2 linked regions of the Homo sapiens genome follow. The protein of the gene in region 1 purifies or fractionates together with the protein of each later gene. This does not show direct contact. Each region holds a gene or a part of one and is shown on either strand. Other genes may lie near its edges.

Region 1 (4,631 bases):
AGGCCCAGGCCAAGACCTTTGCCCAGAAGCTAAAGTAGGCCCTTGAGCCTATTTTAGCATGGGTGGCCTCCAGCCAGCCCATTGGTCCTGGGGTGGTGTGGGAGGGAAAGGGCCAGTTTGGGTCCGCAGCATCTTCAGGCTGTGTGTAGAGCAGCCCCCTCATGGTCCTGGGACCCAGAAATCATCTGCACCCCCAGCAGGCTCTGCACCCCCGGCAGGATCTGCACCCCCGGCAGGCTCCCCTAAGGGCCCCCAGAAGGATACCACTGCGGGTGGGCCCAGCCAGAGGAGCACCATGAGATCCGCTTGGTGGGGTGAGGCCGGCAGGGGAAGCACCCTGACCCCAGGACACTGGGCTCAATGCCCGCCCTGCCCCGTCCCACCCTGTGTATGGCGGGACAGAGTCCTTGGGCCTCAGGCACCCAGCTCCCCACCCCAGCCCCACCCACAATGCTCAGGGTCAGGCTGGCTGGACCGGGCGGGAGGTGGCATCTGGACTCCCCCTTCAGAAGGCAAAGCTGCCCTGAGATCTGCCTTCCCCTTCCCCCAGACTTCCTGCCATCACCACCACGGTAGAGATAAGGCCTCTAGGCTCAAAGGCCAGAGAGGGAGCCCACAGAGAGGGCAGGGCTGGGAGCCACAGCCTCCCTGCCCCCGGGGCTAGAGCTGGGGTCTTGCCCCAATCTTATCCTGACCCAAGCTCGGCCAGGTGGCTGCCAGGGCCCAGCTCCGTCTTCCTGTTTGTCTGTGTTGGAGCTTCCTGGGGCTGTCTCCGGCCTAAGGGAGCATGATGCAGCAGGCACCTTTTCAGTTTCTTTGACTCCATCGCAGTCCCCAACAGGGACCACAGCCCAGGACCCAGGAGGAGGGAGGTCCATGTCCCCACCCCCAACAGGGGCCACCGAGGGTGTCTGGGCAGCCTCTGTTGGGAGGGGCAGAGGCAGGGACCTGGGAGCTCTCAGGCTCTGGGGGCATCTGTGCACCTCTGCCCTGTGTCCCCCAGCTTGGAGGCAGCCCCCAGATGGACAGCCAGAAGGGGACACCCCAGCCCTGCCCCACAGCTTGGGGGGCAGCAGGCAGAGGACAGAAGCCCACCCAGGCTGGCCTGGCGTGGTGAGCCACGCCGGTAATCCCAGCACTTTGGGAGGCCAAGGCGGGCGAATCACCTGAGGTTGGGAGTTCAAGACCAGCCTGACCAACATGGAGAAACACTGTCTCTACTAAAAATACAAAAGTAACCGGGCGTGGTGGCGCTGCCTGTAATCCCAGCTACTCGGGAGGCTGAGGCAGGAGAAGCACTTGAACCCGGGAGGCGGAGGTTGCCGTGAGCCAAGATCACGCCATTGCACTCCAGCCTGGGCAGCAAGAGCAAAACTCCAACTCGAAAAAAAAAAGACCACCGAGGCTGCCTGTCCAGGGGAAGGGGCCCAGCCCTCGACCCCCACAGGCAGTGGCTCCAGGCTGTTGGGGAGGATCTGCCACTGGAATGGTTAACCCAGGCATCTCCAGCAGCCAATCACAGAGCTCTGCAGGAATACCTGGGAGAGGTCCTCATGCAGCCCGGGCGGGTCCTAGCCCAGCCCCAGTCTGGCCCTGGACAACCCCAGCAAAGCCGCCCTCAGCCAGCCCAGAAGCACTGGGCCTTGGCCACAGCAACACCCACTGAGCACGCTGGGAGCTGAGTATGGCGTCCCTGGTCTCGCTGGAGCTGGGGCTGCTTCTGGCTGTGCTGGTGGTGACGGCGACGGCGTCCCCGCCTGCTGGTCTGCTGAGCCTGCTCACCTCTGGCCAGGGCGCTCTGGATCAAGAGGCTCTGGGCGGCCTGTTAAATACGCTGGCGGACCGTGTGCACTGCGCCAACGGGCCGTGTGGAAAGGTAACAGCCCCACCCGACGGGTCCCCCAGCCCTGGCCTCTTCCCGCCAGCTCCGCCCTGCCAGCCGGCAGCAAAGGGCCCTGGGCAAACTCCAGGAGGCGGAGGAGGCTAGTGGCAGTACCTGGGCACCCTGACCCTCCCCACAGGCCAGAGCCCACCCTCCTGCTCATGAGGGCAGACAGGCCTTTCCAGGGACACAGTCCCTCTTCTCCCCAGGACCCCAGGGCCAACTCCCCCTGCCGGCCCTCTGCCATCAAATTGGCAGTGGCTCCAGGGGAGTCCCCTGGGGATGGGGGACCACTGTTGGGGACCCCTCTGCGTGCACCCCTGTAGTTGGGGAAGCAGGACAGGGGCCTGGGGAGACGGAAGGGCGCCAGGGGTTGAGAGAGGATGGTGGACGTTGTTGGACTTGAAAGGGAAACAGGCCCTCGGGGAAGCCCCTGGCCAGGCCTGCCTCTCCCCTCCCTGGTGGGCCCAGCGCCCCTGCTCACTTGTCTCTGCCCACAGTGCCTGTCTGTGGAGGACGCCCTGGGCCTGGGCGAGCCTGAGGGGTCAGGGCTGCCCCCGGGCCCGGTCCTGGAGGCCAGGTACGTCGCCCGCCTCAGTGCCGCCGCCGTCCTGTACCTCAGCAACCCCGAGGGCACCTGTGAGGACGCTCGGGCTGGCCTCTGGGCCTCTCATGCAGACCACCTCCTGGCCCTGCTCGAGAGCCCCAAGGCCCTGACCCCGGGCCTGAGCTGGCTGCTGCAGAGGATGCAGGCCCGGGCTGCCGGCCAGACCCCCAAGATGGTGAGGGAGAGTCCAGGCAGACCAGGGGAGTGGGTGAGGAGGGTCCCACGGCCCATGGGACCCGGCCTGGCTGCAAAGCCTTCGGGGAGCCTGGGGGCCTGGGGAGACGCCCAGGAGTCGGCCTGCGGCTGGGGATTCACAACGTGGGGCTCACTACTGGGCAGTTGGGAGCCTGTAGGAGCCCCGGGAGGGACCTCATGAGGGAGGAACCCAGAGGCCTGAGTGGGAGCCTGAAGCAGCTGGGCCCGGCAGGGAGGGCTGTGGCTCCAGGGAGGGGCGGGGCTGGTGGGGGCAGATCCTGTAGTTGGGGTGGGAGATGCATCCAGGGGCAGCGGGGTGGATGGCAGAAGGTCACACCAAAGGCTGAGGCGGAGGCCCCCTCTTCCCCAGGCCTGCGTAGATATCCCTCAGCTGCTGGAGGAGGCGGTGGGGGCGGGGGCTCCGGGCAGTGCTGGCGGCGTCCTGGCTGCCCTGCTGGACCATGTCAGGAGCGGGTCTTGCTTCCACGCCTTGCCGAGCCCTCAGTACTTCGTGGACTTTGTGTTCCAGCAGCACAGCAGCGAGGTCCCTATGACGCTGGCCGGTGAGGCCTGGGCTGGGCTGTGGAGGGGGGCACCCCCGAGTCCCCAGCCTCCACGTCCCTGGGGGGCAGGGCCGGAGCCCACACAGACTCGCGGTGCCAACTCTTCTCCCTGCCAGAGCTGTCAGCCTTGATGCAGCGCCTGGGGGTGGGCAGGGAGGCCCACAGTGACCACAGTCATCGGCACAGGGGAGCCAGCAGCCGGGACCCTGTGCCCCTCATCAGCTCCAGCAACAGCTCCAGTGTGTGGGACACGGTGAGCTGCGCCCTGGGGTAAGATGGGGCCTCACCGGGGTCTGCTTGGGCCCCTGAGCCTGTCCTGCCACCCCCCAGGTATGCCTGAGTGCCAGGGACGTGATGGCTGCATATGGACTGTCGGAACAGGCTGGGGTGACCCCGGAGGCCTGGGCCCAACTGAGCCCTGCCCTGCTCCAACAGCAGCTGAGTGGAGCCTGCACCTCCCAGTCCAGGCCCCCCGTCCAGGACCAGCTCAGCCAGTCAGAGAGTGAGTGCCCACGCCGACATTGTGCTGGCAGCACAGAGGTGGAGCCCGTGTAGGAAGGAAGGAGTGGCTGCCCAGGATGAGGGATGGAGAGAGTGAGCAGGGGCTGGAAGTAGAAACAACAGACACAGGGGAAGGTGGCGTCGCCAGGAGAGTGGGGCTTTGAGGCAGGAGGGTCAGCCTGAGTGAGGGCCTGGCCCACACTGACGGCCTGCAGCTCTGGTGAGCAGCGCCCGGGAAGCAGGGGCTGAGTCTGGAAGAAAAGCTCTCACAGCCGCCTCACCCGCCCCCAGGGTATCTGTACGGCTCCCTGGCCACGCTGCTCATCTGCCTCTGCGCGGTCTTTGGCCTCCTGCTGCTGACCTGCACTGGCTGCAGGGGGGTCACCCACTACATCCTGCAGACCTTCCTGAGCCTGGCAGTGGGTGCAGTCACTGGGGACGCTGTCCTGCATCTGACGCCCAAGGTCTGCCCCCACAAACCCGCGACCCTGGCCCTCCGTTCCCCACCATGGACTCCCAGGCCGTGCCCTCCCAGGGACCTTACCCACCCCACCTCCTGACCCCTCTCCCTGGGTCTTGGTGGGAGGCGCCCTGGGACCTCCCCCCCAGCCCAGCGCCCCTACTCCCCAGGTGCTGGGGCTGCATACACACAGCGAAGAGGGCCTCAGCCCACAGCCCACCTGGCGCCTCCTGGCTATGCTGGCCGGGCTCTACGCCTTCTTCCTGTTTGAGAACCTCTTCAATCTCCTGCTGCCCAGGGACCCGGAGGTCAGGCTTCTTGGGAAGGTACCCGGCGGGTGGGTGTGCTGGGGGCCTGGTGGACACTGAGCACCTACCCTCACAGGACCTGGAGGACGGGCCCTGCGGCCACAGCAGCCATAGC
Region 2 (3,720 bases), on another chromosome or scaffold:
AAATTCACCCTGTCTTTGGACAGTTCTGGCCGGCAGAAAGCTCTTCCTCATATTGGACCAGAAATCTCACTTTCTGCACACCTGTCCACTGACCTCACTTCTCCACCTGGGGCCATTCATGGCTAGTGTGATGCCTCTACAGTGTGGTAACTCTCCAAGGATTTGAAGGAGATGGTCCTACCCCCTAAGCTGCCTCCTCCTTGGTGCATCAGCCAAGGTCATGGTAGGACCTCTTACCCTTTCTGTCACTGAGTGATTTTCTGAGCAGTTTTGTTCCATCTCATTTAAAATGCAAGGTTTCCAATGTGGACTGTCCAGCATTCAAGATGTTCTGCTTCTGTTGATGGCAGTGGACACAAGAACCTCTTAGCTCACAGAGACCTCCCCCTTAACCCTACCTTGGGGTCATTTCAGGTGCTTCTCCCAAATTACCTCTCCTGGTTCCTACACAACACTCTAAAGTTCAGGGAACTCTAAAATGTTGGCCATGTGACCTATTTCTTGCAAACCATGTCACCTTTGCTTATGCATGTCTTTGTAACCAGCCATCTCAAATACATTGCAGACCATGCATTTTTCCCTGAGGTGAAAGGGAATTCTCATCACGTAGGAAAGAATTGCCCTGGAGTGCTGACTCCATTCTGGGACTGTTGCTGATTCATGGGTACAGTGTGCCACTTTTGAAAAAAATTCACTTAAAACAGACCAGAACGTGCCTCACACTGTAAGCCTCATTTTGCTTGCAGCATTTGCCTGTGTACACTGGAGAGGCCCGAGGCGCCCCTGCTCTGCGTTTTTGTTGCAGGTTCTTTAGCAAGGGTGTTGTCAGTGACTTCCCTGGGCAGCCAGGCTCTTCTCTGTAGATACCATGTTCCTCCTTCCCTCTTTGGGGAGGGCCTTTGCACAGGGACAATTCCTAAAATTGGAATCGTGTGTCTGCCAGGAGAAAGGCAGAATCACTTTCTTGCAAATTTCCGTCACTCCACTTCGCTAGTCATCCCCTCTGTGCTCCATTGAGGCCCAGGGTCTCTCCCTCCACATTTACCATCTAGCTTCAGGCTAACCGAGGACCTGGGCATGAAGAGGCTTTAGGGTATAGAATTATCAGACTTTATGGTGGTCTCTTATGATGAGGGCAGTGGTGGCAGAGTAAGAGTAACAGGTGCTCTGATGTGTGATGGGAGGGAGAAAAAGAGCAAATGGTTTTCCTTAAAGCCCCCACACAAGTATTCTCTCTTCATGAAATGCATGGAGTTTGTCCTCTGGCTTGCCGGGGACACTCGCCTGTGAGCCTACTCATTTCTGCCTTAGCTTTTGGGTGTGAGATTACAAGTCCTTCATCACTGACATGGTTAACACAGCTCACCCAGACGGGAATAGATAGTGTTAGGAGAGCTAATTTTGTAAACCCAAGCTTTTATAAAAGTGACATTGAAGTTATGTTAGATATGGAAATTGTCTGATACTCAGTGAGTGTGTGCCTTCATCAGAAACTCTTGACCTATCCAAAGCCCAGCCTTGTACACAGCAGCCTAGAGGCTGAAGGTATAGATGGTGCAGTTTAGCACTGCCAGGTGAGTAACTGTCATCTTGGAAGCGGAGTACCCTCTGGCACACGGAGCTCTGCTGAAGCAGCGCAGGGAGGTCAGACTCGGCCAGTAGACGTCTCTGCAGACACGCCTGTGGTCTGGGTGGTGGATTGCTGCTGTTGTCATGACGCTTATAACTGGAAACCGTTTCTTTCTTAGGGGAACCCAGAAGAACACACAATCCTAGAATTTGCTCAGTTAATTAAAAACCTTGTTGGTAAGTAGGATAAGTCATTTCCTGAGTAAAATCGACTGTGCCTGCCCTATCTGTTAATAACACCTTGACTAGAAAGTGGGTAATTAATACAAGCTAATTGAATTGGATCAAAGCAGAACTTTTTATCAGGAATACTTAAGTGTTTTCTAATTTTTAAGGAATAGAAAGATAAAGGAGGGCAGGATTGGTTTCTCCTCAGTTTTCGTTGCAGGTTTGCATGAAGTGGGAGGGAGGAGGAGATTTGCTCCCAGTGTTTGAGGCACGATTGTATTAGATCATCCTACATGGGTGACAACTATTGGATTTCCGAACTGGTCATGTCAAGCATAGAATTTCAGACAGCAAGAGACAGCAACCACCAGCTGCGTGCTTCAGGCAGGTTTGAAATTCTGTTTGCAATTCTGGTTATCCTGGCTGCCACCCACTGGGGGCAGTGTAGCATTGGGAGCACCCCATCAAGGTGGACTCTTAGGCCATGAGAAGGTCAGGTCTTCCAGACCAGCCCTGGATTGCAGACATAGAGTGGATGAGCCCTTGGCCTCATCTTCAGACTTCCTGGAGCTCTGAGGAGTCAGACTCTTGGAGGGTGTCTGTTGTCTGGGGTTGATCCTGAAATTTGAGTGAAGTCACAACCAGACTAGACTGGCAGGTAGGCCAAGGAGGAGTATGCCACAGTGTGTCCTGAGGTGACCATTCAGACCCCGCTTGGCTGGGTTAATTCCTCCAGTGTGCCCTTCCTGGCATCAGGCTGCCATTCATCGGCATTGGTCTAATCGACCCGGATGGCTGGAATCCTCCCGTTGCTCGTGGCAGTAGAAGCAGCGGTCTTCCTCAGACATAGCCTGCATCATCTGTGGCTCCCACAGCTGCTCCGATGCACTTCCCAGCTTTTCCATCCTGAATCTGTGTGTTCCTCCTGCGTGAGGAAGGGGCAGGCTCAGATCACAGCTCTGTGCCATCCACTCCTTCACACCCTCACTGCACAGAGTGAGGCCCGTGGGCCAACGCAGCAGCAGCATCATCAGATGTGTGTTAGAAATTCAGACTCTCATGCCCTAGCCCAGGCCCCCAGATCAGGATCTGCCTGTTGACAGGCTCTTCAGGTGATCCGTGCGTGCTGACGCTTGAGAAACACTATTTGAAACCTAAGGCTGGGGGGAGGGGCGTGCAGCTTCCCTGCTGTGCTTCTGTATATAGCTTTGTGACAGACCATCCTGAACCACCTGTGGTGGTGATTCGCTGCAGAGTCTGCAATGTGGCCTCCATGACACGGAGGCAGGGAAAGCCTCCACAGGCTTTCTTCTGCAGGTCTGGCCCACAGTCACTGGTGGGGCTGTGTACTGCTGGCCAGTGGGGCCTGGGCCCAGCAAGGATGTGGAACAGGCCAGCCTTTGCCGTCCTCCGAGAGGTCCCTCCAGCTGGGTGGCTGCACATCTTGGGTCTCAGGGCTGTCTAGGCTCCGAGCACCCAGGTATGGCCCACTTGGGGCATCCACCTCAGGGATGGCCCCACACCACGTTTGTGGTCTCACACCGGGGTCATGCTCGGTGGGCACGTCTGCACTTGTTACCTGGTGTGGGTGGTCTGCCTTGGAGCAACCCTCTTGTAGTGGGCGGTAACTCAGGCCTGTTGAGACAGAATAACCTGCCCCCCACCGAGCTCTTGCTGGGCGCCTGCACACAGTCAGCTTGGCCACAGCAGTTGCAGGAGCACTCCCTGGACTTCCACGCAGAACAGTCCCTCGGGAGCTCCGGGGCTTCTCAGAGAACTGCATTTCCACCGCCTGCACCCTATTCACACCACATATGGGGTTTGCCTTTGATGTGGATGGTAAGGCTGTGCTTACCCATGCTTTGTGATTCTCTCCTACCTTTTTTTTCTTTAAACATCTCAGGTAGCGGAAGTGAAATTCAG

Evidence for each region.
Region 2: the proteins of SLC39A4 (region 1) and UXS1 purify together in Homo sapiens (affinity purification with mass spectrometry; 4 studies listed by BioGRID and IntAct, with this or other methods). This does not show direct contact.

Annotation. Positions count from the first base shown.
Region 1 is NC_000008.11:144,413,843-144,418,473, reverse strand, and holds the start of SLC39A4 (zinc transporter ZIP4 isoform 2 precursor), read left to right. Parts: upstream 1-1,629; 5' UTR 1,630-1,684; coding exon 1,685-1,876; exon of another isoform or gene 1,877-2,265; coding exon of another isoform or gene 2,266-2,382; coding exon 2,383-2,664; exon of another isoform or gene 2,665-3,054; coding exon 3,055-3,247; exon of another isoform or gene 3,248-3,363; coding exon 3,364-3,500; exon of another isoform or gene 3,501-3,577; coding exon 3,578-3,749; exon of another isoform or gene 3,750-3,852; intron 3,853-4,039; coding exon 4,040-4,212; intron 4,213-4,378; coding exon 4,379-4,516; exon of another isoform or gene 4,517-4,518; intron 4,519-4,592; coding exon 4,593-4,631. UniProt on the Homo sapiens protein: Selective transporter that mediates the uptake of Zn(2+). Plays an essential role for dietary zinc uptake from small intestine. The Zn(2+) uniporter activity is regulated by zinc availability.
Region 2 is NC_000002.12:106,096,802-106,100,521, reverse strand, and holds part of UXS1 (UDP-glucuronic acid decarboxylase 1), read left to right. Parts: intron 1-1,748; coding exon 1,749-1,806; intron 1,807-3,700; coding exon 3,701-3,720. UniProt on the Homo sapiens protein: Catalyzes the NAD-dependent decarboxylation of UDP-glucuronic acid to UDP-xylose. Necessary for the biosynthesis of the core tetrasaccharide in glycosaminoglycan biosynthesis.